Homo sapiens: one gene and its partners. The protein of the gene in region 7 purifies or fractionates together with the protein of the main gene of each other region. This does not show direct contact. Each region holds a gene or a part of one and is shown on either strand. Other genes may lie near its edges. The genes, in order: FGFRL1, PPP3CA, FAM171A2, ZDHHC18, STK39, PPP3CC and KLRG2.

The links.
Region 1: the proteins of KLRG2 (region 7) and FGFRL1 purify together in Homo sapiens (affinity purification with mass spectrometry; 2 studies listed by BioGRID and IntAct, with this or other methods). This does not show direct contact.
Region 2: the proteins of KLRG2 (region 7) and PPP3CA purify together in Homo sapiens (co-immunoprecipitation; 3 studies listed by BioGRID and IntAct, with this or other methods). This does not show direct contact.
Region 3: the proteins of KLRG2 (region 7) and FAM171A2 purify together in Homo sapiens (affinity purification with mass spectrometry; 2 studies listed by BioGRID and IntAct, with this or other methods). This does not show direct contact.
Region 4: the proteins of KLRG2 (region 7) and ZDHHC18 purify together in Homo sapiens (affinity purification with mass spectrometry; 2 studies listed by BioGRID and IntAct, with this or other methods). This does not show direct contact.
Region 5: the proteins of KLRG2 (region 7) and STK39 purify together in Homo sapiens (affinity purification with mass spectrometry; 2 studies listed by BioGRID and IntAct, with this or other methods). This does not show direct contact.
Region 6: the proteins of KLRG2 (region 7) and PPP3CC purify together in Homo sapiens (affinity purification with mass spectrometry; 2 studies listed by BioGRID and IntAct, with this or other methods). This does not show direct contact.

What each region holds. Positions count from the first base shown.
Region 1 is NC_000004.12:1,021,114-1,024,724, reverse strand, and holds part of FGFRL1 (fibroblast growth factor receptor-like 1 precursor), read right to left. Parts: intron 2,523-3,611; coding exon 2,250-2,522; intron 1,085-2,249; coding exon 1,004-1,084; intron 909-1,003; coding exon 624-908; intron 415-623; coding exon 61-414; intron 1-60. UniProt on the Homo sapiens protein: Has a negative effect on cell proliferation.
Region 2 is NC_000004.12:101,340,302-101,344,526, reverse strand, and holds part of PPP3CA (protein phosphatase 3 catalytic subunit alpha), read left to right. Parts: intron 1-4,225. UniProt on the Homo sapiens protein: Calcium-dependent, calmodulin-stimulated protein phosphatase which plays an essential role in the transduction of intracellular Ca(2+)-mediated signals. Many of the substrates contain a PxIxIT motif and/or a LxVP motif.
Region 3 is NC_000017.11:44,353,669-44,357,893, reverse strand, and holds part of FAM171A2 (protein FAM171A2 precursor), read left to right. Parts: intron 1-1,305; coding exon 1,306-1,464; intron 1,465-1,541; coding exon 1,542-1,721; intron 1,722-1,819; coding exon 1,820-1,936; intron 1,937-2,052; coding exon 2,053-2,179; intron 2,180-2,702; coding exon 2,703-4,161; 3' UTR 4,162-4,225.
Region 4 is NC_000001.11:26,829,404-26,833,628, forward strand, and holds part of ZDHHC18 (palmitoyltransferase ZDHHC18), read left to right. Parts: intron 1-3,043; coding exon 3,044-3,204; intron 3,205-4,225. UniProt on the Homo sapiens protein: Palmitoyltransferase that catalyzes the addition of palmitate onto various protein substrates, such as CGAS, HRAS and LCK. Acts as a negative regulator of the cGAS-STING pathway be mediating palmitoylation and inactivation of CGAS.
Region 5 is NC_000002.12:168,142,682-168,146,906, reverse strand, and holds part of STK39 (STE20/SPS1-related proline-alanine-rich protein kinase), read left to right. Parts: intron 1-4,225. UniProt on the Homo sapiens protein: Effector serine/threonine-protein kinase component of the WNK-SPAK/OSR1 kinase cascade, which is involved in various processes, such as ion transport, response to hypertonic stress and blood pressure.
Region 6 is NC_000008.11:22,524,389-22,528,613, reverse strand, and holds part of PPP3CC (serine/threonine-protein phosphatase 2B catalytic subunit gamma isoform), read right to left. Parts: intron 1,223-4,225; coding exon 1,097-1,222; intron 109-1,096; coding exon 37-108; intron 1-36. UniProt on the Homo sapiens protein: Calcium-dependent, calmodulin-stimulated protein phosphatase which plays an essential role in the transduction of intracellular Ca(2+)-mediated signals. Dephosphorylates and activates transcription factor NFATC1.
Region 7 is NC_000007.14:139,452,129-139,456,353, reverse strand, and holds the end of KLRG2 (killer cell lectin-like receptor subfamily G member 2), read left to right. Parts: intron 1-2,139; coding exon 2,140-2,243; intron 2,244-2,646; coding exon 2,647-2,767; 3' UTR 2,768-3,664; downstream 3,665-4,225.

The DNA of each region.
Region 1 (3,611 bases), on a different chromosome or scaffold from region 7:
CGGGCCCAGGGGGCGGGTCCGGGCACCAGCATGGTGTGGCGTGGCGTGGCAGCCGCGCACCTGGCAGCACGGTGAGGAAGGCGCTGCGGAAGCTGTAGCCCATGGTGTTGGCGCCAAGGCAGATGTACATGCCCGCATCGTCCTGGCGGGCACGGGTGATGAGCAGCTTATTGAGGTAGGAGCCGTCGGGCCGCGACCACACGTCACCCGTGGGCAGCACCACAAACTTCTGGCCGCCCACATCGATGGTGGAGTTGTGGCGGCCCTCGGCGCCGTACTCCACGCGCTTCAGCCACTGGATCACCGGCTTCACGTCGCTGCGCACCTTGCACTGGAAGGACGTGGTCCCCCCGAAGTCCACCGTCGTGTTCACGGGGTGCGTGCCTGTGAGCACGGGCTTGGAACGGGTCCGCTCTGTGGGAACGTGGCACGCGGGCATGGCTCCTGGGCCGCGCCGGACTCTACCCCGCCAGCACCCTGGGCCCACCAGCACCCCCAGCCCACCACCCCCAAGCCCTGCCAGTGCCCCCGCCCACCAGCGCCCCCGCCCACCAGCACCCCCGCCCGCCAGCGCCCCCGCCCACCAGCACCCCCCGCCCGCCAGCGCCCGGGGCCACACTCACGGATCACATCCACCTTGTAGGTGGCGTTGATGGCGCCCGCGCGGTTCGACACGCGGCAGGTGTATTTGCCGCTGTCCTCCGGCCGCAGGTTCTTCAGGCTCAGTGTCCACTTCTTCTTCCTGGGCTCAGCGGCCTCTGGGCGCGTCAAGGCCTGGTCGTCCTTCATCCACGTGATGTCGGGCCGAGGGTGCCCGCTGGCCACGCACTTGAGCCGCACGGAGCTACCCACGGGCCGTGCGATCACCCGGCGCCTCATCTTGGAGGGCTGTGTGAAGCGCGGTCGTGCTGCGGGGTGGGGTGGCGTGGAGGTCAGAGGACGGGGATGCAGCCAAGGGGCCGGGACAGACGGACGCCCCCCACCCCCGTCACCCCCTGCTCACCCCACTGCTGGCTGGCGGGGTCCTCTTGACCCCCAGAGGAGCTGTCGGGCCCCAGGCTCTCCTTCCCTGGGCTAATGTCATCTGCAGAGAGACGGAGGTGCACAGGGAGGGCAGGTGAGGGGGGCCCTGAGGAGCTCCCCCAACTCCCCCGTGGCCTCTAGCTCCCCCAGCCCCAGCCGGGACAGCCCTGGACACCCAGGCAGGGGGCTGCGCCACACACCCACAGCCCAGAATCCCAGGGACAGCTGGGCAAGGGCCGCTGGCCCACACTGGGCGCAGGTGACCCTGATGGGCACGGGTGGGGCTGGAGGGCCGGCCCCCATTCTGGCTCCGGGGGGTCTGCAGGCCCCGGGGGAGGAGGGAGCCGGGCCCGGCCAGCAGCTGCAGTAACCCTAGCCTACATCAAGGGGCCGAGGGCTGGTGAACAGACGAGACTCTCATACCACCCGGTCATCGTCCCCTTTGAAAGGACTGTGGGGTGGGGGTGGGGGACAGCCAGTTTTCCCATTCCACACAATGCCGAGGGGCAGGGCGTGCTGTGGAATGTCCCCTCCATCCACCCTGTGACAGCCGCTCCTTCACTGAGCCCAGGACCAGGCTGTCTCAGGCCGCACCCCCAGACCCTGCTGGGGCCTGGGCCAGGCTCCTGTATTCAGAAAACGGGCACATGTACCCTAAAACTTAAAGTAGAATTAAAAAAAAAAAAGAAACGGGCCAGCCCAGCTCCCAGGAGCTCCACCCGAGGGCCCCACACCCAGGAGCCCAGCGGAGCAGGCGGGGTGCCGGGTCCCTAGGTATGGAGGGCGTGTCTCTCTGGACACCTGTCCAAGCCCAGCGCCCGGGCCCCAGGCGCAGAAGAGAACAGAAAGGCCACGCATCCCGGCGGCTCCTCTGAACTCCGAAACCCGAGCCTCAAAGTCACAGCCGACGGCCGGCACACCCTGCCAAGGCCTCGGGCCCCAGCCCTTCTGTGGGACCACTGCCTTCGGCTCCCGCCCTCCACCCTCCGCCCTCCGCTGGGAGGAAGGCTCCGAGGCTGGAGCCTGACGGGGACAGGAACGGGACAGGATACCTGGGGGATGGTGGCAGAGGTGCAGCCAGCTGAGGTGGGGCAGGGCACCGAAGGAAGGCTTTCTGCCGGGGGCTGGCTGACTCTCGGGCCCCAGGTGTGTCCCCGTCCGCCCTCCTGCACACCCCTGCCTGGCTCCAACCCAGCCCATGACCTCTGACCGCAGCAGCGACTAACCCAGCACGACGAGGGTGTAGTTGACGCTCAGGCTGCCGAAGCCGTTGGTGGCCTTGCACACGTACACGCCGGCATCCTCCCGCTCCACCTGCTTCACCTTCAGCCCCTGCGGCAGCACGCGGAAGCGGCTCCAGCCGCTGTGGATGGTGCGGCCATCCTTGGTCCACATGGTCAGCGGCGGCGGGTCCCCCTCCACTGGGCACTGCAGCCGCACAGTGCGGCCCAGCCGGGCCACCTGCCGTGGGACCACCTTGTCCGCCATCTTTGGGGGGCCTGCGGGTGGGACCGAGGAACAGTCAGCGAGGAGGGGCTTGGGGTCCGGAGCCGGGGGGGCGGTCAAAAGGGGACCCACGGCCCAGCACAGACCTCGGGCCTGAGCTCCACCTGGGTCACCTGCCCAAGATGAGCAGAGGGGCCGAGGTGCAGTGCCCCTGACCCAGGCCTCAGCTGCCCACATGCACCAAAGCCCTGAGCACTGGCCCAGCAAACACCACGTCAGCAGCCTCTCATGGCCGGGGCAGCCCCGTGGCCCCAGAGGCTGGCTCTTTGAGACACGAGAAGGGAGCAGGGTCCCCAGAGGATGCAAAACAGCTGCGCTTGGTAACTCTCGAAAACCACCAACCAAAAGGGCAGAGTCTCCTTCTGGTCATACAGGAAGCAGCCGTACACCCGAGGTCAGAGGGGACAGTGGCCCCCCAAGGACAAGGGCAGTAGGGGGATGGGGGGCCTGGTGGGTCCCAAAGAGGCCCCAGGCCCCTCACCTAATTCCCACCCAACCATCAGCCCAGGGCCCAGCCGGGCCTGGGCATGGGCCAGCGACCCCACAGCTATCCACAAGCAACCGAGCACGGCGGGCTGCCTGAGCCTGTGCAATGTGTGGATGAGAGTCTGTGCAGCACCCACGTCTGTGTCAATATCAGACCTGAGTTCAGGGACCACAGATGCCCAGGTCTGTCTGCCCACCCCCAAGGGCCGTACCCTGCCAGGCACCTTAGCCTTGAGGGGGCATGACCCCAAGGCCCTGGGGTCAGAGAGCAAGCCTCTGGAGAGACGTAGCTCGGGCTGACCACGGGCACTGCCGCTCCTGTCTGGGGGGCAGCCAGTATGTCCTCCCACCACCTGTGAAACCCACAGGAGCAGAAAGGCTGCGGCTCCACATGGCCACCTGCACCATCCCACCCTATGTGGAGAAGCCGAGCCCTCCTTTCCTGGCAGAGGCCTCCTTTCCTGGCAGAAAGGAACCCACCCCATCCCCTGCCTGGGTCCCCGCCCCACCCCATCCCCTGCCTGGGTCCCCATCCCACCCCACCCCCTGTCTGGGTCCCCACCTCACCCCTTCCCCTGCCTGGGTCCCCACCCCAT
Region 2 (4,225 bases), on a different chromosome or scaffold from region 7:
TGCATTTGTTTTGATAGAGATCCTGATGTGAGATGTGAAATGTGAAATTTTGTTTATAGAAGTTTTGTTGATGAATCCTGATTTTAAGGTGGATACACTGTTATTGTTTATCCTGTTTTCTTGTAGAATATTATTGGCATGAAAGGCATTATACAAGGTTGGATTCAACCTTTTGTCATACATAAGATTTTTATTATTAGTTATTTGAGATAATCTATTTTGATTATTAGCTTTCTGTGAAATAATATTTCCCCTTGAGTATGTATACACGTACTGAATGAATGGAAAGTACGCGTATGCTGGATGTGAAACATATTAACAAGTGATTTAATTTGCAAAAATTAGATAATATGGAGTTTAGAAACCATTATTTACTTGAAATTTTGTTAGAACTTCATCTCAATGGCTATTTAACTCATTCTTTAATACAGAAAAGAAATTATCTTTGAGGAAGTATTTGTGCTCCATAAGTTTTCTCTTTTTTACGAAGTATGTGTAGTATTATTTACTATATATACATACAAAAATAAATATTCAGATTGTTATTACCATGGCATGCCATGGCATTTGCTTACAGTTATATTTATTAGTGTCATCTGGCTTTTGTTGTATAAGAAATTGCTATTTACAAATAAAGATGTGCTTGTGGTTTGTAGTAATATGATGTGACTGTTTTCTTAATTGTACTTTTAGAATGCAGCTTTAGAGACGTAGGTTGAGTCTGTCTCAACTATGTTATTTTTGAGGTTTATAGAATCTGCTAGCATGTATTCAGAGACCCTGATCGGTTTTCTAAACCTTAAAAATGAAAGAGAATGATGGCAGTGGAGATGAAAAGTATTTGTTTAGATTATCCCAGGAGAGAAAGTTACTTCAGTTAGCAAAACTAGTGCTGTATCATTTTGACTCTTCTTGGATTAAAACAATGGAAAGTAGAAAAATTCAGAGAAAACATCTTGGTAATGACCTTTGCTGGAAATCAAAATAATATGGTCCGTTTATTGCTTTACATTATATTTTTAAAGATACATACAGCAAACCGAGGGCAATAAATAGAAGAATAACTGTCTTCCTCCCCTTGACCCCCGTCCTGATTTTTCTCTTAGTGATACTCTACAGGCCTTGTCTCAAACTTTGGCTTTTCTTCATTTCTCTCTGTTCCTGCCTAGAATGCTTTGTCTGGCCCTAGCATTCCCTATTGGTCATGGAACTTTGCTATGTGATAGTTAAAAATACTTAGAGGAAATTAAACCCTATGTGATAATGAGTATTTGGCTTTGTTAAATCTCTTAACCTACCTTCCCTCTGTTCCCATCTCCAAGTATTTTGTGATGGGACTTCTACCTTAACTCAAACCGATGGTAATGGTAGAAATTTTAGAAACTATGGGAGGCTGTTGAGGGATAAATTTCTGAGAAGAGTTTTGTGGAATCTCTCAGAAACTATAGATAATGCGTTGTTGTGCTTTGTGTAAGGTTGCTTTTGGCCATAGAGAATGAGCTGTTTTTCAGGTGTATTGCCAGCTTACGTACTTCATGTAGACAGAGTACACATAGGAGAATTCTGAAAGATGCTAAGATCATAGAAGCAAGAAGATGCTAGTTAAGTATTATTAAGTAAATAAGGATTCCAGCCACTAGTATTTCTAGCTGGGTGAGACTGATAATACTACTTAAAAAGAAAACAAATATGTCACATTCGTAGTAACTGTCGTGTTTAGACCTTGATGCAACAGAGTAGTAAATAATGTCATTTATTTGTGGTGTTCCAGGAAGAGCTTGTGAATTTATTTTACTGACATTTTGTTACCATCAGTTGAGTTTCATGTATCTGGTTTTCAATTTGAGTATAGTGAAACTTTATTAATTCAATATCATGAATTTAAATTTATTGTGAAAAAACACCAGTGTTTGTTGGCTGAAGTTTACATCAGCATTGGATGTGAAGAAAGGGGTCCGATAACCAAAAAGTATAAACAACATAGTTCCAGCATTGTTAATATACCAAGAGAACAAATTCTTTTCAATACTTAGTGAACAGTATGCAAATTCATCCTGTTCGTTACGAGTTAGGTTGGTCTATTTATTAACATTTCCTTTTGGGACTATTATAAAGTGAATATAACACAAGTGCATTGTTGTAAAAACATTCAGTAAATTTAATGATTAATGCAACAATTGAGACTGGGATTCAGGGGAATTCCAGTGATTCTAAAATGCCATCAATTAGAATAATCAACATTTTGAAGATAATAGTTTTTCTGAGAAGTGTGGGATAGAACCCTTATTTTAAATGGACAGTTTATCTTAAGACATCCAGTTAAAATAGGAAAAAATTAACATCTAGAATCTAATTAATGAGGTTTACTCTAAGATTTGTTTAAAAATATGCCTTTTAAAATCTATTTGTCTCTTTGTTTTATTTGTAATTTTAGCGAGATGAAATATAATTTTGATAGACCATTCATTTATAACTTTTGTAATTGGCCTCTCATGCTTTTCCTTATCTTTTTTTGTGTCAGCTATGTGTAAATTTGAAACTAATTATGACACCAAATAAAGAATCCATTTAGGGTGACCTCATTGGAAAACAGCATTTTTGCAGATACTCACTCTCCTTTTAGCAAATATGGTTAAATTACCATTTTGAATACTTCTAGAACTATGAAGAATGGTGGTGATTCATGATATAGAATTTTGATAATTACTAAAAATCATTTTGTCAATTTTTTTCCAGCAACTTTCTGATGTAGCAGTCTCTTGATATACAAGAGGGATATGGTGAGACCTTGAACTTCAGCTTTCTGTAATTCCACTGGTATATGTTATAACTTCACAGGCTAACTTTCTCTATACATAAAAGGGGAGTAATTGTATCCACTGTCAACTTGTGAGGACCGAAGGATAATCAAATGGGAAATGGGGAGTGTGTGGTTAACACTTTGTCCACTGCCTGGTAATGGCGATTCAGTCACTGCTAACACAGAATTAGAAATGACACGTGTTATGTATTTTCTGGTCACCTGAGAATAGTCAGAACCATTAGCATTGAAAGCCATGAGTGCCTTGGGTCAAGAGTAGCTTATGATGACATTTATTTTTATAGTTAAAGAAGTGGAGACAGAATAGATAGAATGGTTACAGGTAAGTGTAAACACATTATTTTCTTTATTAAAGAGGCTTTTCTTGCTTGAAAACATTTTTGAAAATTGCCACTGGCCAGGTGTGGTGGCTCACACCTATAATCCTAGCACTTTGGGATGCTGAGGTGGAAGCTTGGGCAACATAGCAAGACCATATCTCTTAAAAAAAAAAAAAAGAAAAAGAAAAAAAGAAAATGGCCACTTCTTTTGGTATATTTAAGATATCTTCACATTTCATTTCGCATTTTGTTTTACTAAATAATTAACTATGTAAAATAGTTTGATTAGGAGAGGAAGCTTTTTATATTTCTGTTTTTAGCAGACATCAAATTCTGGTGATAAATATTATAATTTAGTCTGACCTTGGCCTGAGGTTTATAAAGAAATACTGTTAAACATTGCTTTCTGTTCAGGTAAATATATACACAGAAATAGAATAGTATACTCTCCTGCAAAAGAATGTTATTTACTTTCATTTTGAAGGATGTTGTCTTAAGCCTGTTTTTCTGAACTCCACTTAATGACCCACACTGATGCTCTGGTTTGACAAACAAAATCTTCAGATTTGATGATTTTGTTAATTTCTAGAGCAGGCTCAGGTGAAAATATCAGCCAGTGATTCTGAGGTGTTGCATTCCTATTTTTAAAGCAGTCATTAGGTAGGACTGATGTAGGCAATGAAATAGGATTTCAGTTTGTAAATTAAGTCTTTAGTACTCTTGACATTTTCAGCATTTTAAAATCATTTTATTTTACAATAATTCCATCTTTTATATGAATCCATCAATTATATTTCATATGAGAAGTGAAATAACAATTGTGTATTCCTCCATGGTTAGGGGTTCTGAATAATGGCTTAAATCAGATGGGTTATCAACTTTATGACCTAGCCCAGTTGCTGGTATCTCAAATCCGTTTTAACAAATATGCACTCGGGTAGTGGAAGCTTTAGATATTAAAAAAATAAAAGCCCTCACTGACAAAGTGGCAATAAATTATTAAAATGCTATGTTTTTGGAATTCAGGTAGATTCTTTTTGAGACCATCATAGAGAGGAATAGAACTTTGCTGTCCTTTTTGTTT
Region 3 (4,225 bases), on a different chromosome or scaffold from region 7:
GGCTATTTTCCTAATTGCAGGGGTTAATATAGGTAACCTGCTTAGAACAGTGCCCAGCATAGCTTAAAGATTAATAAATGTTAGCTGTGACCATATTGTATTGGAATTGTTTGTATGTCTGTCCCCTCCACCCCAACACACACACACACACACACACACACACGACCTAAACTGTCTAATGCAGTAGCCACTAGCTACATATTAAATTGAAGTAAATTAAATTAAAAATTCATTAATTTTTTTTTTTGAGATGGATTCTCACTCTGTTGCCCAGGCTGGAGTACAATGGCATGATCTTGGCTCACTGCAACCTCTGCTGCCTGGGTTCAAGCGATTCTCCTGCCTCAGCCTCCCGAGTAGCTGGGATTACAGGCGCCTGCCACCGCACCTGGCTAATTTTTGTAGTTTTAGTAGAGATGGGGTTTCACCATCTTGGCCAGGCTGGTCTTGAACTCCTGACCTCGTGATCCACCTGCCTTGGAATCCCAAAGTGCTGGGATTACAGGCGTGAGCCACCGCGCTCGGCCTTTTTTTTTTTTTTCTTTTGAGATGGAGTTTCGCTCTTGATGCCCAGACAGGAGTGCAATGGCACAATCTCAGCTCACCGCAACCTCCCCCTCCCAGTTTCAAGTGATTCTCCTGCCTCAGCCTCACGAGCAGCTGGGATTACAGGAATGCACCACCACACCCAGCTAATTTTGTATTTTTAAGAGAGTCAGGGTTTCTCCATGTTGGTCAGGCTGGTCTCCAACTCCTGACCTCAGGTGATCCACCCACCTTGGCTTCCCAAAGTGCTGGGATTATAGGCATGAGCCACTGCACCCACCTAGAAAAAAATCATTACATTTTTAAAAATTAAAAATCCAGTTCCTCAGTCACACTAGCCACATTTCAAATGCTTAACAGCCACGTGTGTCCAGTGGGTACCATAATGGGCAGCACACCTAGAAAACATTCCCATCACAGCAGACGTTCATCTTTGGGCCCCCAGTGTCTAACCTGGTGCCTGCCACATAGTAGACAATACTGTTTGAGGATCTGGATCGCAACATTTTATAGGTTCTATAAGGAAACTTTCTACTAAAACAAGTAAATTGCTGAGGGTCACACAGAGATTTCAGGTCCATGTCCCTTCCAGGTTAACATTCCATGACTGCCCAGCTTTCTCCCCAAGGCATCACCCTCCCTGGCCTTCCAAAGTGGCCTGACCTCATGTCCCCCTTTTCCTTAGATAATGGGTTTCTGCTCTGGTCCCTGGGGATCCCTGTCCATGGTCAAGCCACTGCAGCCCCTCTTTCCCTCCAGGTGCCCGCTCCCAGCCCTTGGTGCAGTTCCAGCGCCGGGCTGCCCGCCTGCCTGTCAGCTCCACCTACAGCCAGCTCTGGGCGTCACTTACGCCTGCCAGCACCCAGCAGGAAATGCGGGCTTTCCCTGCCTTCCTGGGCACTGAGGCCTCCAGCTCAGGTAGGCTGGGTGCCCAGCACGGATGGGGTCTCCCCAGGCTCAGGATCAGCCCTCAGCCCTGTACCCTCTTCCCTCAGGCAATGGCTCCTGGCTGGAGCTGATGCCCCTGACTGCTGTGAGCGTGCACCTGCTGACAGGTAATGGGACAGAGGTGCCGCTCTCAGGCCCCATTCACCTGTCCCTGCCCGTGCCCTCCGAGACTCGTGCCCTCACCGTGGGCACCAGCATTCCAGCCTGGAGATTTGACCCCAAGAGTGGTAAGTGCCTCAGGGGGCTGCAGGTGCTTGAGTTGAGAGAAGAAAGTGGGACTTGAGTGGGAGCGACTCAAGTGTGACAAAACCCCTGCCTCTCCCAGGGCTGTGGGTGCGCAATGGCACTGGTGTAATCCGGAAGGAAGGCCGGCAGCTCTACTGGACCTTCGTCTCCCCCCAGCTGGGGTACTGGGTGGCCGCCATGGCCTCCCCCACGGCTGGTAAGAGTAGTGGGGCAGTGGGCGTAGAGGCCGCGGAGGAGGGGAGCTGGGAGAGCAGACTTCTGAAAGGCAGGAAGGGTGTCTACACCTGAACGCTAAGCCCTCGCCTGGCACAGGGCTGGTCACCATCACGTCGGGCATCCAGGACATCGGCACCTACCACACCATCTTCTTGCTCACCATCCTGGCAGCCCTGGCCCTGCTGGTGCTTATCCTGCTGTGTCTGCTCATCTACTACTGCCGGTGAGCACGGGGCTTCCCTCACCCTCCCCTGCACTTGTACCGGGCCCTGGGGCCCCAAAGATGCATAAAATCCACTTCTGGTCCTCAAGGGGCAGACAGGAAAAGACTTCCTGCAAACATGCTAAGACCTGAAGGGCTGGTGCTGGTGGTTGAAGACAGCGGGGAGGTGGGAGGGGAGGCAGGGCTTAAGGACTTGCAGCCCGGCCCCTCCAGAGAGATCTGCCACTGCCCCTACCAGCCCAGCTCTCTCTCCCAGAGGACTCCAGGCCGGACACACCCATAGACAGCTTAGATGCTCATCCCTGGTTCTCGCAGCACATCCTACATGCAGAGGAGTGCAGAGTTGACCCTGAGGGGATCGCCAAACGGACACGGCGGCTCCCCGCCATCTCTCCTGAGCGCCCCAGGCATTCTCCCCACCTCTTCCACTATATTCGTCTCTTGTCTTGCATCTAAGGGGGTTCGGGGCCTACTTTGGCCCTCACCCTTTCCTGAGCGGCCCCTTCTGCTCCCTCCCTTCCAGGAGGCGCTGCCTGAAGCCGAGGCAACAGCACCGCAAGCTGCAGCTCTCGGGGCCCTCTGACGGTAACAAACGAGACCAGGCCACCTCGATGTCCCAGCTCCACCTCATCTGTGGGGGACCCCTGGAACCCGCCCCGTCGGGGGACCCCGAGGCTCCGCCTCCAGGCCCCCTCCACTCGGCCTTCTCCAGCTCCCGGGACTTGGCCTCCTCCCGGGATGACTTCTTCCGCACCAAGCCGCGCTCTGCCAGCCGCCCGGCCGCCGAGCCTTCGGGTGCCCGCGGGGGCGAGAGCGCCGGGCTCAAGGGCGCTCGCTCGGCCGAGGGCCCCGGCGGGCTGGAGCCCGGCCTAGAGGAGCACCGGCGGGGGCCCTCGGGGGCTGCGGCCTTCCTGCACGAGCCGCCCTCGCCGCCGCCGCCCTTCGACCACTACCTGGGCCACAAGGGGGCGGCCGAGGGCAAGACCCCCGACTTCCTGCTGTCGCAGTCGGTGGACCAGCTGGCGCGGCCGCCGTCGCTGGGCCAGGCGGGGCAGCTCATCTTCTGCGGCTCCATCGACCACCTCAAGGACAACGTCTACCGCAACGTCATGCCCACCCTGGTGATCCCCGCGCACTACGTGCGCCTCGGCGGCGAGGCGGGCGCCGCCGGCGTGGGCGACGAGCCGGCCCCGCCGGAGGGCACGGCACCCGGCCCGGCGCGCGCTTTTCCCCAGCCCGACCCCCAGCGCCCGCAGATGCCGGGCCACTCGGGCCCGGGGGGCGAGGGCGGCGGGGGCGGCGGCGAGGGCTGGGGGGCCGGGCGCGCGGCGCCCGTCAGTGGCTCAGTCACCATCCCTGTGCTATTCAACGAGTCCACCATGGCGCAGCTCAACGGGGAGCTGCAGGCCCTGACCGAGAAGAAGCTGCTGGAACTGGGCGTGAAGCCGCACCCGCGCGCCTGGTTCGTGTCCCTCGACGGGCGCTCCAACTCGCAAGTGCGCCACTCTTACATCGACCTGCAGGCGGGCGGCGGGGCACGCAGCACCGACGCCAGCCTGGACTCGGGCGTAGATGTCCACGAGGCGCGGCCCGCGCGCCGCCGGCCCGCGAGGGAGGAGCGGGAGCGCGCCCCGCCTGCCGCGCCGCCGCCGCCGCCCGCGCCCCCGCGCCTGGCGCTCAGCGAGGACACGGAGCCCAGCAGCAGCGAGAGCCGCACGGGCCTCTGCTCTCCGGAGGACAACTCGCTGACGCCGCTGCTGGACGAGGTGGCGGCGCCCGAGGGCCGGGCGGCCACGGTACCCCGGGGGCGGGGCCGCAGCCGCGGGGACAGCTCCCGCAGCAGCGCCAGCGAGCTGCGGCGCGACTCGCTCACCAGCCCGGAGGACGAGCTGGGGGCGGAGGTGGGCGACGAGGCGGGAGACAAGAAGAGCCCGTGGCAGCGGCGGGAGGAGCGGCCGCTGATGGTGTTCAACGTCAAGTAGCGCCCGCGCAGGGCCTGGCACCGCCCCTCCCGCGCGGGCCCGCACCCAGGGTGCGCGCCCCGGG
Region 4 (4,225 bases), on a different chromosome or scaffold from region 7:
CCAGGCATGTCATCCTCCGTGCACACTCCTACCTCTGGGCCAGTGCTTGGAATCCCCTTCCTGCAGGTGGCCTCATGGCTCACTCTCTCACATTAGGCCTCCCCTGTCCATCCGCACAGCATAGCAAACCACTCCCCTCCTGCACCTCTCTTCTCCCCTCATTTATCGCTCTCTGAAGCATTTGCCACCACCTGACATATTATGGTATACTTGTTAGTTTCTGGTCTTTGCCCATGAGAGCAGGACATTCTCCTCTGTTGCACCCTTAGTGCCTAGAACTCGCACCTGGTATGCAGTAGGTGCTCAATACTTATTGAATGAATGAATTGACAGTGTATTTGAATTAATTGACAGTGTATTTGCTGGGAGGCTGGAAACCCTAGTTCTGTCATTGGCTGGCTAGATGACCTTGAACCTAGCTGTGGGCCTGGGAGAGCTGTTAGCCTCTGGCAAATCAGGAGGCTAGGACTTGGTGGTTCCTGCAGGCTCTACAAGTCTTAGATTTCAAGTCTTCTCTGTCCCCCCACACAAGTCTGATTGCATATGAACTGGATTCATTGCCATGTGGGTGACACTGAGCGCCCACTGGTTCTGTTTGAGGGTCAGACCCAGAAACCATTGAGATGTATGGAGCAGAGTGTGACCCACTGGGAGCCCTTGGCCTTGGCAGTCTGCTCCTCAGGGGAAGGGCTTCTCTGAAGGCCAGAGCATCTGATGACGGAGACTTCAGAAGCAGCATGCAGGTGCCCACAGGTGTGTGCCTACTGTGCCACTCCTGGAAGCTTGGTTGATCTCAGGCCTCCCAGGGCCCCGTCATCTCCTTACCTGATCAGGTGCTACTCTGGCTATGGGGTGATGGTTAAAAGTATGAACCTCAAAGTCAGACCTGGCTTGGGTCCCACTTTAGCACTCCTGAGCCATGTGACCTTGGGCAGATTACTTAAACTCTCTGAGCTCTAGTTTCTTCATCTGTAAAGTGGGGAGCATAACTTCACAGGGTCCCAGTGAGGATTTGATGAGAAAGTACACAGGAACTGCTTAGCCTGGTACCTGGCCCATCCAGGTACAGTAGTACAGTAACTATCTGTAGATAGTACAGTAACTATCTACATAGTACAGTAACTATCTGTACATAGCACAGTAACTATCTGTACTTTGGATGTTGCTAACAGTAGTTTATTAATTAGGGCAGTGTCTGGCACATAGTAAGCCTTCAAAAGATGGTAGCTATTTTTCTGTCCCCTGGCAGCAGTTATTTACCGGGTACGTCCTTGGTGCCAGGTGCTGTGCAGTGTGCTGGAAATATAAAGCTGAACAAGAGAACATAGTCTATACCCACAGAGGAGCTTATGTTTTTTTATGTTTGTTTGTTGTTGTTGTTGTTGTTGTTGTTGTTGAGATAGAGTTTTGCTCTTGTTGCCTAGGCTGGAGTGCAATGGCACGATCTCGGCTCACTGCAACCTCTGCCTCCCGGGTTCAAGTGATTCTCCTGTCTCAGCCTCCTGAGTAGCTGGGATTACAGGCACATGCTACCACACCCTGCTAATTTTTCTGTTTTTATTAGAGATGGGGTTTCATCTTATTGGTCAGGCTGGTCTCGAACTCCTGACCTCAGGTATCCGCCCACCTCAGCCTCCCAAAGTGCTGGGATTGCAGGCGTGAGCCACTGCGCCTGGCCAAGCTTATGTTTTAGTGAGAGAAAAATAGCCATCACATAGACAAGTAGCTGAAATCTATACTAAATGTTATACAGGAAAGAAAGAGCATTGAAGTTCACTGTGTACAGAGTTGTCAAGGTAGGTCCTTCTGAGGAGGGAAGAGGAATCTGAGAAAAGGAACAGCAAGTGCAAAGGCCCTGAGGTAGGAGAGAGCCAGGCTTGTTATAGGAACTGTCATGGGCTATTGTGATGGGAGGAGCAGGAGCAAGACGAGAGTTTTGTAGAATGAGGCTGAAGTCCTCAGTAGGGCCCAGATCATGCCTGGCCTAGAAGGCCATGGTAGGGAGTTTGGATTGTATTCAAACTATATGGAAAGCAATTGGGAGGTTTTAAGCAGGGAAATGACATGATCTGATTGACATTTCCAAAAGTGGCTCTGGCTTCTGGGTGGACAGTGAGGTGACAACAGAGAGGATTGGCCATAGAGAGAGAGCCCTGATAGCTTCACTATCATGAAGCCATTCTCCCACCAGTGTCCAGAACTTCTAGAATGTTCTAGCCCTAAGATGGAGGAGGGAGCTTGAAGAGGGCTGTGGTAGGCAGCCTCCCTGGGGGACAGAGGCATGACCATTCAGCAGGCACAGGCTATTCTCTGAGGCAGCCAGGGTCAGGGGGTCTGAAAGCACTGCCTTGGGGATACCTGCCTACCTTGGGTCACAGTGACAGTGGCTGGACCATGCAGTTCCCCCAGCCCTCTACTCATTCTTCAGGTTGGAGCTTAGGATTGTCTCCTTCAGGTTGCCTTTCCTGACTGTGCTACTGCGTTCCCCTCCCCCACTAGAGCACACATCACCCTGTGTGGCAATTCCCTGTTTACATGTCTTGTTTTCCCCACTAGACCATAAGCCACAAGGGGGAGGGACTCTTGTCTTATCCGTCGTCATTATTCCTGCTGCTTATTGAAGGTGTTGCCTGCCACAGAGAAGACCTCAGTAAATATTTGTGGACTGAGTGAGTGAATGAATGAGTGAATGAACACTGCAGGATGGTTTGTCTCAGGTGACAGTCCACTAGTGTCTGCCTGAAGCTCTGTGTGTAGAGGGATTCTCTGGATGCAGAGGTTAGGAGTGCTGGGATCTATTGGACACATCTGCCATGTGCTCTGGAGGAAAGTATATCACAAGGATCAATTAGTGATGTCTGTTCCCGGTACTTATTGGGGAGTGGCTGCACTCATCAAGGAGCTGTGCCTCTGCCTCAGAGCGAGGCTGTATTCAAGATTTTGGTGGTGGTTGTTGGAATGACAGCGCCTGCCACGTGCTGTAGCCCTGTGCCGCAGGGAGCCCTTGGGGTGTCTGCTGATCTCTCTCCATCTCTCGTTCTAGCTGTCCCTACCTGGCTCGCAAGCTGACCCTTGCCATCCCCATCATCGCTGCCATCCTCTTCTTCTTCGTCATGAGCTGCCTGCTGCAGACAAGCTTCACCGACCCTGGGATCCTGCCCCGGGCCACTGTCTGTGAAGCAGCCGCCCTGGAGAAACAGATCGGTGAGGTTTCTACTCCCAGCTGAAGCTGGGTCTCCATAGCTCCACATTCCCTGACTTGGGAGGAGGCCTGGTTTTCTCTTCCAAAACTATACTAGGAACTGGGGATGCAGTCGTGAGCAAGGCAGGCTGGAGCTGACACTGGCACAGAGGGAGACAGATGATCAACAAGTGAGCAAATAAGTAAGCAAGAAATGCTGGCCAGCCAGCAAAGGCCCCGATGGCAGCCAGCGTGGAGCTGAGTAGTTCCTGGGGGCTAGGCACTGTTTTAAGCTCTTTATATGCATGATCTTATTTAATCCCCCAGTAATCCTATGAGGTAGGTACTGTTGTCATTCTCCTTTTACTGATTAATTAAATCAAGGCAAAAGAGGGTCCAAGATCACAAAGTAAGTAGAAGAGCTGAGATGAGACCTCAGTCTAGAGCACCTGCTCTTAAACATTCATATACACTTATTCATTCACTCATCAAACATTTATTGACCCCCTACTATGTGCCAGGCACTTTTCTAGATGTGATACAGCAGTGAACAAAACTGACAATAGTCCCTGTCCTCATGGAGCTTGACAGTTGAGGAGGAGGAAAGAGACAATAAATAACAAATAATTAAATATCTAGGATATCAGACAGAGAAGAAAGGAGGGAAGGAGGATGAAGGCTACAGGGAGGGTGTGTGATTTTACATAGGGTGGCCAGGGAACATCTTGTGAAGGAGGTGACATCTGAGCAAAGAAGCACCGGCCTGAACAGATGAGGGCTTGACGGTGGGGTTATCTAGGGAAGAGCCCAGTAGGTGTTGGGGAGTGGGCTAGTTTAGGTCAGGTGGTCAGGGGAGACCTCTAGGAGGAGGCGGCACTGGAGATGAGTGTGGTAGAAATACGGGGATCTGGGAAAAGTAAGGCCAAAGCCCAGAGTGGCAAACAGCCTGGGCGTGTGTGAGGAACGGCAGTGGCTGGAAAGACCCTGTGCTCCCAGGCAGCCCAGGTGGCCCTTGATTCCTTTCAGACTGCTGTGTGGGTTCCG
Region 5 (4,225 bases), on a different chromosome or scaffold from region 7:
TCTTAATTCCAATATCTACTAAATCATCGTATTTTCTTAAGAATTGGTCTAATCCTCTCCATTTCCAACCTCTCTATTCATATACAGGCTCTGTTGATTTTGCTCCTGGGCTATGGTTGTGGTCTTCTCTGCTTCTAGTCTTTTTCCTTTCTTGAACATCCCTGCATGGTCACTTTTTCCAAATGTTGTTCTTCTCTAACGAGAGAGGGAACAACAGCTGTTAATTGAATCAGGTACAAATTCCCTTACCTGGTGCTCAGACTCTGTGGTTGGTTGGGCCCCTCAACAATCTCACCCAGTACTTCCCTGCTTTTAAAAATAATGGCCTCTGTGGAAAAGAAGCTGCTTGTAGGAAAGAACTCTCAGGGTCCCCTGAAGCTATGGGGGCTCCTATTGCTCCAGACTCCCACCCAGCCACTTAGGCATCAGTGTCTCTTTTAACTCATTGTAGCTACATTTTAGGAAGCTCTGAACTCTCAAACATTGATCCCGTTACTCTCTGATCAAAGAGAGTCAATGTTGTTCATGCACAACTCAGGTTCCTTTTCAAAGAGAATAGCAGATACTGTAGAAGTTTGAGGTAGGTGAGGCTTGGGTACTCACCCACAGCTTCCCTTACAGGTTTTAGAGAAATCAACTTTCAGACCAAATTTTGCCCTTCATTAGCAAGCAAGCCCCTAAACAGTTCTCACAATTTGTTCTGTAAGCTCAAGGAAATCCCAGTTCTTTTTCCTCATAGGTGAATGAAAAATTCATTAGAGGCAGACATGCCAAGATTCCAGATGCAGTTTTTGCTTTATCCTTATGCTTGCTACTAGGAATCCAACCATCCACAGAACTGGCTAGGGTATAGTCTACAGTTGGACTGGACTGGATTGTTTTATTCTGTTCATGCAAGAGTAAGGAGTATATCTAAAATATTTTAGCCACTCTCTGGTGCTAAGAACCTTTATTTTCAGCAGTGAAAGCCCATTTCTAACATGTATCATACCTCTCAACAGGTCACTGTTTTCCCTAATAATAACCCCTTTGGACAATCAGTCACCTGGCTTATGCTCATCTATATTTAGATTTGGATAATAGAAATACTTCCAGCAGCTGCCTCTGGCATCCTGAGTCGAGTGCTATCAGAACCCCCCCAGCACTGGACATTCTTGGTTAGAATGCCAGCTGACCACCTAGGTTGTGGTATCACAAACATAATATCACATGGCATATGTTGAAGTATTTTAGGTACATTTTAGACATCATAACCACACAGTTGGCAGACTTTAGTTTTGCGGACTAAATTAGGCAGGAGAAATCGCTTTTCTATTTTTTTAAAAATGAATTTGTTGCCAACTACAGTAAGAAAGGGAGCTTTTTCATAAAGATTCCAATGTTTGGCTTTTTTGGGAAAACTGGGATATCCAGCAATCCTGGGTCTACATTTCTCTATGGCAACTTTCTTCTGGTGCCAAGCAGCAGGGGCCTGCCTTGGACCTTGGTGGGAGGGTGCTGACAGTGGGCTCCAGGGCTTCACACAGGGCCCAGCACTCCTAAAGTCTCCCGTCACAGAGACTGAGCATCAAGGGCCCTTGTCACTGAGACTGTAGCTGTTGTTTTTCAGGACCCTCTTTTCTCCATTGTATTCCTGCCTGGCTGCTGTAGGTGTTTTGAGTTTTTGACCCTTGCAGCTGTCAGTTTTTCTTCTTGGCTCCACACTTGTGCTTTGCTCATGCCGTTTCTTTGTCTGGAATTTGTTTCCTGTTGGACTTGCTCATCCAAGTCTTCACCTCATCTTGAAGGCTGGCTCCAAGACCCACTTTGGAGATAGTCTTCTATGACCATTATGGTTATAGCTCCTCTGCTTCTACACAGACAATATAGTATTTGATTTTATACATCTTATCCTACTTAGGTGGGAATATTCTTTTTTTTTTTTTTCTGAGACGGGCTCACTCTGTTGCCTAGACTGGAGTGCAGTGGCATGATCATGGCTTACTGCGTCCTCGACCTCCTGGGCTCAAGCGATTCTCCCATTTCATCCTCCTGAGTAGCTGAAATTACAGTTGCATGCCACCGCACCCACCTAATGAACTATCATGCCCGACAAATATTGTTGAAGTCAAGAAACATGTCTTCTCCTATTTTATCTCTGCCACTGTAAAATATTTATGCTTATCCCCTCAGCCTGCTTGCCTTGCTTATGAAAAGGCAGTGAGTAGCTTATCGATCTACCTAACAGTTGTTATAAAGAATAGTCATACATGGTAAAAAAAAAAATGAGTCTTATAAATATGAAAGTAATATAGAAATTGAGGCTCGGCATGGTGGCTCATGCTTATAATTCCAGCACGTTGGGAGGCTGAGACAGGAGGATCGCTTGAGCTCAACAGTTTGAGAACACCTTGGGCAACATAGAGAGACCCCATATCTACAAAAAATAAAAATAAATTAGATGGGCATGGTAGCACATGCCTGTAGTCATAGCTGCTTGGGAGGCTGAGGTAGGAGGATCGCTTGAGCATGGGAGGTTGAGGCTGCAGTGAGCCATGATCATGCCACTATGTTCCACCTTGGGCGACAGAGCGAGACTCTGTTTCAAAAAAATAAAATAAATAAATAAAAATAGGCCTAAATAAGAAGCCCAATAAGGCCCAGAAAGTTTAAGTCCCTTTCGGGAGTCATACAGTTGGGTAATAGTCTAGCCTTAGGCCTAATCACTGTTAACACTCAGATCTTGCCCATTAGTCCTGTAATGTTTCCTAGTAGATCTGCCACTCTCCAAATCAGATAACCATACCTGCAGATCCTCCTCAAGGCTTAGTAGCATTCACACATCAAAACTAGACCATGACCAATGTTACTGAAATCAAATTACGCAAAGGTGATGAATGCACATCAAATTACTCACCAAGAGCCAGGGTGCCGGAGATGCTGTGTCATTAACAAGGTCATGCAGAAAGCCTTCTGCTGGTGCACCTGTTCAGCATGGAGGGTTGATGTACCTAGACGACAAAGCATCATGTGCAAGGGCAATGCTGGTGAGGCCAAGGAGGTGATGGGATCAGGGAATAAAAAGTAAGTCATTCAGTAGGCTGGAGCTTACTGTCTGAATCTGAGAGTAGTGATATAGGTTTACGTGTTATGCTGAAGGATTTTGACTTTTTCCTGAGGGGACAGGGAGCCTTGAAAGACTTTTTTTTTTTTTTGAGACAAAGTCTTGCTCTCTTGCCAGGCCAGAGTGGAGTGGCATGATCTCAGCTCACTGCAACCTCCGCCTCCTGGGTTCAAGCGATTCCCCCGCCTCAGCCTCCAGAGTTGCTGGGACTACAGGCGCGTGCCACCAGGCCCAGCTGATTTTTTGTATTTTTTTAGTAGAGATGGGGTTTCACCATGTTGGCCTGGATGGTCTTGAACTCCTGACCTCGTGATCCACTTGCATTGGCCTCCCAAAGTGCTGGGGTTACAGGCATGAGCCACCGCTCCTGTCCTGAAAGTCTTTTAAGGAGGGCTCAGGCCTGTGACATAGAAAGGCCTGGTTGCTGGAGCCTGGATCTGGGGAAAGAAGGGAGATGGGAACTTAGGAGGCTGCTGCAGAAATCTTAGCAAGAAGTAGTGGTGGATTAAATGAAGGCAGTGGCTGTGGAGGAGCAAAGAAGTGGATGGATTCAGAAGGTCTTAGACCCTTTTTGTTATTAGGATGACAGCATTATTTGTTGTTGTTGTTGTTTTTCTTAAAGCAGCATTTACCCATATCCTCCAGTTATTCCTGGAGGCAGGGAGATGGACTGGCTAACTTTATGTGTAGCCTTTGATTCTGTGTTTCTAGAGAAATGTCTGTGGTTTTGTACCCAAGTGAATCTGGCTGCATTCCCTTTGGCTGTATAGATGTACCCCTTAGGAAACAAGGACAGCTTTTCACTGTTACAGTTCTGCCACCTTGTTCTAACTGTCATATGCAAGCTATCTCAATATAATATACCAATTTTTTGTGTATATAACATAAGCACACTATGTACTTTGCTCAAAATGTTCTGTTACTGAGTACATATAATCTGTATACACATCAGCCGTACATAGGAGCAAATTGTATATTTCTTCTGTAGTCATAGAGGGAGTAGATATTAGGATTGTTGTTTTCTGCTCCTGAAATTTTTGTTCTGAGTTTTAAAGACATTTAGCCATCTGTTTATGACTTTAAAGTGAGTGTTCAAAGTGGAGGCTCTGAATGTATGTATCA
Region 6 (4,225 bases), on a different chromosome or scaffold from region 7:
TCTTTCTAGTTTTAGTTCAAAGGAGGAAAAGTTTACCTTCTGCTTCATCATCAGAAATCAGTTCGTCATCAGAGCATATGTTGAGCACATTTACCAGCATCTCTGTGACTAAGTAAGACAAAATAATCCAAAATTTACGCGATTAATGAGGTACTTTCTCTAAAATAATGTGGATATCTAAATAAACACACATGTTAAGTAAGCATAAGCAAAAATTATTTATCATTATGTTAGTAAGAATAGCTATAAAAAGTAGCATAAATGTAAACTTTCAGGTTTAAAAAGAATTTGGGTAGATTACTTGCTCCAGTAAAAGTCTGGAGTCTTTGAAGATCTATTGCCTAATTACTTGATTTTACCGGATTGCTGTTCAGAGCTTCTTCCCACACTGATACACACGTGAGAAAATTTTTTTCCCACTTTACAAAGTTAAGCCAACAGGCCTACGTCCAACAGGCTTAGCTAATTTGAGTAGCTGTACAAATAAAATTGTAAGGACAATAAATTCTGTTTAAATCTCTTCAGTACTGAAGAAATCTGAGGGAATGACAAGTAACTATGTTATTTTAACATCTTGATCATAGTAGGTCAGCTACTTTAAATTGATATTTACAATAAAAAAACCATAATATATTAAAATTTAAGAACCAATTACATGCCATTTACAAATCTATGTAGAGGCTGGGCACGGTGGCTCACACCTGTAATCCCAGCACTTTGGGAGGCTGAGGAGGGCGGATCACTTAAGGTCAGGAGTTTGAGACCAGCCTGGCCAATATGGTGAAACCCTGTCTCTACTAAAATGCAAAAATTAGCCGGGTGCAGTGGCACGTGCCTATAATCCCAGCTCCTCAGAAGGCTGAGGCAGGAGAATTGCTTGAACCTGGGAGGCGGAGGTTGTAGTTAGCTGAGATCGTGCCACTGCACTCCAGCCTGGGTGACAGAGCGAGACTCCATCTCAGAAAAAAAAAAAAAAAATCTATGTAGAGAACAAACAAAATTAGAAAACATTTCTGAATCATGGAGGGGCTCATGCAAATATAAGGTATGCTCAGTCACCAAACAACTGATGAGACATGTGCTTTAGTTCTCTTACCTTTTTCCCCAACAAAAGGCAAAGACCATGTGAAAACATCCATAAAGTTTGGAAGCCAGTAGGGGTGTGGAGAACAGTTAAACTGCCTGATATTCATGACATTGTTTTCATATTTCAACACAGCAGCTAAAAAGGAAAAAAGCAAGAAAATCTGGCACAGAGGAACATGGCATGGCAAGTGGTATGCTTTGTACAGCTGTGTACCTGCTACACAGAATTCGAGAACTTTCCATTTGTAAAGTCAGGACTTGACTAGGTAAAGGGCAGATGGAAAATTTTAAAGCCTTTTATTCAGTTCATTCTCTTAAGAATTATTCCAAGGAACAAAGTTACCTGAAGAGCTCATATAATAAAAGTACAAAAGAAACTGAAACTTTGGAGTCACTGCACAGTAACTATCTATATAAACCTCAAGATCCACGTGAGGAAAATTTCCCCATAATTTCCTTTTATAGGCCAAATGGTTATAATTACAACTCTCCTTTGAAGGCAAAAATTACTCATTAAATGGACACAGCCTGTTTTGCTAGTCATTAGCCAGAGTCAAAGATTGTATACACTCTCTGGGAGTTTATATATTGCAGTTATCAACTCATACTGGAAGATACAAATGGCAAACTTGGAGCAATTTACAATTAAATGTTCAAAATTAGATTAAGTCATCTCTGTATTCAATATAGCGGATTTTAAAATTGCCGATTTCTCCAATACACAGCAGTGTATTGCCAGCATGCTATGTTTAATATTAACCATTCAGATAGTCGCACACATACTTTGATGCCAAACTGATTTTCTTTATATTTTGAAAGTCTTAAAATCCAATTCCTTAGCCTTTATCACCAGCAATGTTGTTTGCACTATTCTCTTAATTATTCTGTGGTCATAAAATAAAACAGGGTGTAACAGTTCTCCAGAAATGACAGATATAGGTCACGTCCTCATTCCTGTTTCTTTGCTACAGGATAATCTAGTGTTCTTAAAATTTAAGTTATTGAATGTCTAAAATGTACACCATATATTATTAAGAAAATAAATTAAAATATAGTTTCTAGCACTTAAAAAGCCTAACACTGGCTATGATGTACATGTTCCATTATTTTCACGTGTATGTATTTTATTTAGTTTAGGTAAATATGTCATATATCATTATTCAACAACTCCCTCAATTTCTACCCAGGAAAAAGAAGTGGGAGGTGAGTCTCAACAGTGAATGACTGGAAACAAGAGCTTATAAAACTGCTTTTGGGTGTGTTCCCAGTGGACAGAAGAAAACAAGAATAAGAATCTTTAAAAATCATGATTAAAGGTCTTTCGTGTAACTAGTGGAACTAGGAAATACCTGTAGATACCAAGAAGTCTAAAGAATATGAAAGAGCACTCCTAGCACTTTGGGAGGCCGAGGTGGGCAGATTGCCTGAGCTCAGGAGATTGAGACCAGCCTGGGCAACATGGTAAAACCCCGTCTCTACTAAAATAAAAAAAATTAGCCAGGCGTGGCGACGTGCACCTGTAGTCCCAGCTACTCGGGAGGCTGAGGCGGGAGAATTGCTTGAACCCGGGAGGCAGAGGTTGTAGTGAGCCAAGACCGCACCACTGCACTCCAGCCTGGGCAACACAGTGAGACTCTGTCTCTGAAAAAAAAAAAATAATATGAAAGAGGCCAGGTGTGGTGGCACACACTTGTAATACCAGCACTTTGGGAGGCCGAGGCAGGAGGACTGCTTAAGCTCAGGAGTTTGAGACCAGTCTGGGCAACATAACGAGACCCTATCTCTATAAAAAATATTTTAAAATTAGCCAGGTGTAGCGGCATGCACCTGTGGTCCCAGCTAGTTGGGAGGCTGAGGTGGGAGGATCACTTGAGCCCAGGAAGTCGAGGCTGCAGTGAATCAAGTTCCTGCCACTGTGCTCCAACCTAAGTGACAGAGACCGAGAGAAAGAGAGAGAGAGAGAAAGAAAGAGAGAGAGAGAGAGGGAGAGAAAGAAAGAAAGAAAGAAAGAAAGAAAGAAAGAAAGAAAGAAAGAAGAAAAGGAAGCAGAAAGAAAAAGAAAGAAAAGAAAGAGAGAGAGAAAGAGAGAGAAAAGAAAAGAGAGAAAGAGAAAGAAGAGCAACAGTAGAAGAAAAGGAAGAAGAAAAAGAATAATAGAGTTCCCTTTTTCAGAAAAGAAGGCACTTGTATGGGGAGTAACTGAGTACCCCCAGGGACTGTTTCAAATGCCACATTTTCTGCCTTTTTCCTTCTAAAATGCCTAAGAAACAACCAATGAAAATAAGACTGTTTTGAGATAAAAGTTACTAATTATGTCAAAGCCGACAGAATACTCAGGTAGAATGAACTGTGGCTTTTACTTTTTTTTTTATTTTTTAGAGACAGGGTCTTGCTCTATTGCCTGGCTGGAATGCAGTGGTGTGATCACAGCTCACTGCAGCCTCGAACTACTGGACTCAAAGGATCCTACTGCCTCAGCCTCCTGAGTAGCTAGGACTATAGGCATGCTCCACCTTGCCTGGCTAACTTTTAAATTTTTCTTTGTAAAGATGGGGTCACATTTTGCTGCCCAGGCTGGTCTTGAATTCTAGGCCTCAAGTGATCCTCCCCTTGGCCTCCCAAAGTGCTGAGATTACAGGCATGAGCCACTGTGCCTGGCCAGGACTGTGATGTTAAAAGTTTGCTAAAGAAATAATCAAGAACAAAACCAGGTTAGATTGAGACAAAAAACAAGCTAGCAGTGAGTGAGCTGTATAGTGCCTGCTGACTTAGGTGGCGTGTTTCAGCTTGGCACACTGATAAATCCATTGAGCAATCAATAGATACTCTTTTTGATGAAGTTAAAAAAGAAAGTGAGAAAGAAACACCTTCATTACAAATAGGAGATCTAGGGCCACAAGAGTCCTTGAAGACGTTTAACAACACAAACAGTCCACACCATTGATAAGAGAATAAATAAGAATAAAACCTAAGTTGCTAATATACTGGAAATATCAGGAAAAAGGAAATAACAAATGAACTTAGGGAGAAGCAGAGCATTGTAGGACAGATAAGGCTCAGAGAAGAATGCTAAGTTAAATGAAAACATAAGACTAGGACAGAACTTAAGTTAAAGACATGCTTTTTAAAATAGACAAGT
Region 7 (4,225 bases):
AAAGAGACAGCTCTATTCTGTGAAAGTTGTGGAAACCAAGGGGAGGGAGGAGCACCTATTTCACCTTGGAGAGGGTCAGCCCAGTGTCCGTTAAAAAAGCCACCTTTAAATCAGTTCTGAAGGATGGAGGAGGTGGCAGCAACAGGACAATCATCACTCTAATTCCCAGGGCTTGTCTTTGTTGACTTAAACCATTTTCTTAGGGAAGAAGAACTGAGCATATGCGAAATTCATTTATACCGCTCTGCTCCTAACCTGCCTCAGTGTGAATATGTGCTTCTTGACATTGTTGTGAGTGATATGTACTTGCTAGTGTAGTCTTTTTTTTTTTACATGGCATGATTTCATATTTACATTTTCCTGCATAATGACATTTTCTATACACTTGTCATTTTTAATAGCACTATAATTTTCCATCATGTTGACATCCTATAATTTACCTTGTTATTTCTTGATTGCTGAGCGTTTGGGGAGTTTCCAGTTTTTCTTCACAAATAGCACCGTGTTATCTTTAGATAAGTTCATTTTTTTCCCTTTATATTCTTGGATTTATTTCTCAGTGAAATCACCCATTTGAGCAGGAGTGGTGGTGCTGCTCTTGTCACATAGCACCAAACGACATTTCAGAAAGAACAAGCTGATGCGGGCCGTGCCGGCATCACTGCCCCCTCCACCACGTCCCCACCCTGGGACTTAAAAGATTTAAACTTTTTTTTCCAAGTTAAAAAATCTTGGCCGGGCGCGGTGGCTCACGCCTGTAATCCCAGCACTTTGAGAGGCCGAGGCAGGCGGATCACGAGGTCAGGAGATCGAGACCATCTTGGCTAACACGGTGAAACCCCATCTCTACTAAAAATACAAAAAATTAGCCAGGCATGGTGGCGGGTGCCTGTAGTCCCAGCTACTCGGGAGGCTGAGGCAGGAGAATGGCGTGAACCCAGGAGACAGAGCTTGCAGTGAGCCGAGATCGCGCCACTGCACTCCAGCCTGGGCAACAGAGCGAGACTCTGTCTCAAAAAAAAAAAAAAAAAATCTTGGCCGGGTACAGTGGCTCACACCACTAATTCTACACTTTGGGAGGCTAAAATGGACAGATCACTTGAGGCCAGGAGCTCAAGACCAGCCTAGGCCAACACGGCAAAACCCTTCCCTACTAAAAATACGAAAATTACCTGGGTGTGGTGGTGCATGCCTGTAGTTCCAGCCTCTCAGGAGGCTGAGGCGGGAGAATCGGTTGAACCTGAGAGGCGGAGGCTGCAGTGAGCCAGGATCGTGCCACTGCACTCCAGCCTGGGTGACAGAGCAAGGCTCCATCTCAAAAAAAAAAAAATCTTAAATATATACTTTAAAACATTGTCTTTTTTGCTTTAATTCATTGTTAAAAATAGTGTGACATTGAGGGCAAATATTTAAAAGAAAAAAGTCTCCTCTAGTACCTCTCCAGCACACTTACTTTGGTTTTTGTTGTTCCTGCACATCTGCGTGTGTTATTATTATTATTATTATTATTATTATTATTATTATTATTATTATTTTGAGATAGAATTTCCCTCTTGTCAGCCCAGGCTGGAATGCAGTGGCGCAATCTCGGCTTACTGCAACCTCTGTCTCCTGGGCTCAAGCGATTCTCCTGTTTCAGCCTCCCAAGTAGCTGGGATTACAGGCGCCCGCCACCATGCCCAGCTAATTTTTTTTTTTTTAATAGAAACGGGGTTTCACTATGTTGGACAGGCCGGTCTCGAACTCCTGGCCTCAGGTAATCTGCCAGCCTCGGCCTCCCAATGTGCTGGGATTACAGGCATGAGCCACCGTGCCTGACCACCTCCCTCGCTTTCTGAGCTTCCTTGTTTCTTTGCCCACTCAATGCCCACTGAGCATCACTTAGTGGTGTTTGGCGTTCACATCCCTTTGGCTGAGACGGGGTCACCCTCATTTTGGCCCCCAGCCCTGAGCACAGAACCTGGCACCCAGCAGGCATCCAATCCAGCTTTCAAGGTTTTTTTGTTCTGCAAGTGCTGGCTTGAGCAGATCCTTCTGGATTGGCCAGCTGGGATCCTGTGGAAGCCCCAGGGAATCCGTACGCCCCAGGCAAGCCACGCCAGTGTCCAGGGGAGTGACCAGCTTACTTTTCTCCCTCAGGACTTCCTGGGCAGATACCCAGTCTCCAGGCACTCCTGGGTGGGGGCCTGGCGAGGCCCCCAGGGCTGGCACTGGATCGACGAGGCCCCACTCCCGCCCCAGCTGTGAGTGACCACGGGCTTTTCTCCCTCCTCTGCTGTTCTGGATCCTCCATTTCTCCCCAGACTCCACCTCCTTGCTGCTCCCCTAGCCTGGAATGCCACTTGGAAAGCAGCCCACGCCCATGCTCGCGGCCTGGTGCCTGATTAGACCCTGTCGCTTCACTCTTTATTTGGGTTCCCAGCACGTTCACCCAAGCAGGGTTGTCACCCCCATTTTACAGATGCGGGGTCAGCTGCCCAGGGAGGTTTGGGGATTCATCCAGTGCCACGTGGCTGACCAGTGCAGTGACTCACTCAGTGCCCAGGCCGGTAGAGGTGACAGGCACACACGCTGGAGGGTCTGGCTGGGAAGCAAGGCCCCGGCACCCTAAACACCTCTCCTCTTTCCCCTCCCATCCTTTCCCAGACTCCCTGAGGACGGCGAGGACAATCTGGATATCAACTGTGGGGCCCTGGAGGAAGGCACGCTGGTGGCTGCAAACTGCAGCACTCCAAGACCCTGGGTCTGTGCCAAGGGGACCCAGTGATCTGGGCTCTGCCTGGTCCTCAGCCTGCCAGGCAGATGCAGCACCCCCTACAGGGGAGGCCAGTTGAGAGCTTGGGCAGCCTCTTCCTGGACCCAGTTATCCAGGTCTTCATGCTCTGCTCAAGGGGGCCACATGAGCGAGCCTAGGAGCTGGACTTCAACCCAGGAAGATGCATCCGAGGGAAAGGAGATTTTCTATGGCCTCAGGCCTGAGTGCCAATATTAGTCTCCAGCTTCTGTGGATGATCGGTTTGATGACATTGGGATGGTTGTTTAGCATTTCTGTGCCTTGGTTTCATTAAAATGACAATTTCCCCCTAGAGGAAAAAGACAGGGTTAACAACCACAGCGGATTCCAATCTGGGTTCTCATTCCGGCTCATGGAAATGAGTCTGCCGTTGTTCAGTGGCAGTGGGACTTGGCAGGGATAACGTCATTGCTGTGAATTCTACTTCAGGCAGCTGGGTGTACATCGGACACAGCCTACCGGCAGCCTCTGGAAAATTAACCAAGGAAAAGGAGCGGTCAGCCCTGGAAAGAGGGGAGAGCAAGGTTTTCCTTCCCCACCCTGAGAGTTGGCAAAGGGTTGGCAGACAGGAAGGTTCTGGGTGGAGATCCCGCATGTGGGCTGGCCAGCCCCTGGCACGCTGATGCCCAAGGGTGAGACAAGGCAGAGAGGACAGGGCCACCTGGCAGGAGAAGCCAGGAGAGCACCCCAGCTTGGTAGGTGGAAGCTGAGGAGTCTGAGTGAAAAAGGAAATCAGAGAAATGCAGGCACGTTCCAGGCAGCTCTTCTACCCACAGCTGCAGAGACGACCAACCTGAAGATGTCTCCATGCTGGGGTGCAGTGAAGACCTTCAGGCTGGAGGATGTGGCTGACAGAGTTGTGTAGTTCCTTGAGTCCAGCTAGACCTCCAAACAGCAGGAGCCTGGGCCTGCGTGTTGGCTTGGTGCTGAGCACGCACTCAACTGGCCCTTGCAAGCCAGCCTTCCCTCAAAAGTCAGACCATGCACCCAGATCCCTCCCAAACAGAAATCCTTATTGGTGCGTTTGAACCAGTAATGGGCCGTCTGGGAGAATGGGATGGAGAGTCCTAGATGGGAGAAATTTCTCACACTGTATTTTTCATTAGTATTATTATACTTTAAGTTCTGGGGTACATGTGCAGAACGTGCAGGTTTGTTACATAGGTATACACATGCCATGGTGGTTTGCTGCACCCATCAACTTGTCATCTACATTAGAAATTTCTCCTAATGCTATCCCTGCCTTCTCACACTCCTGAAAGTAATAACAAAAAGGGAAATGGAGGCCGGGCACGGTGGCTCATGCCTGTAATCCCAGCATTTTGGGAGGCCGAGGTGGGCGAATCACAAGGTCAGGAGTTCGAGACCAGCCTGCCAGCCTGGCCAACATGGTGAAACCCTGTCTCTACTAAAAACACAAAAAAATAGCTG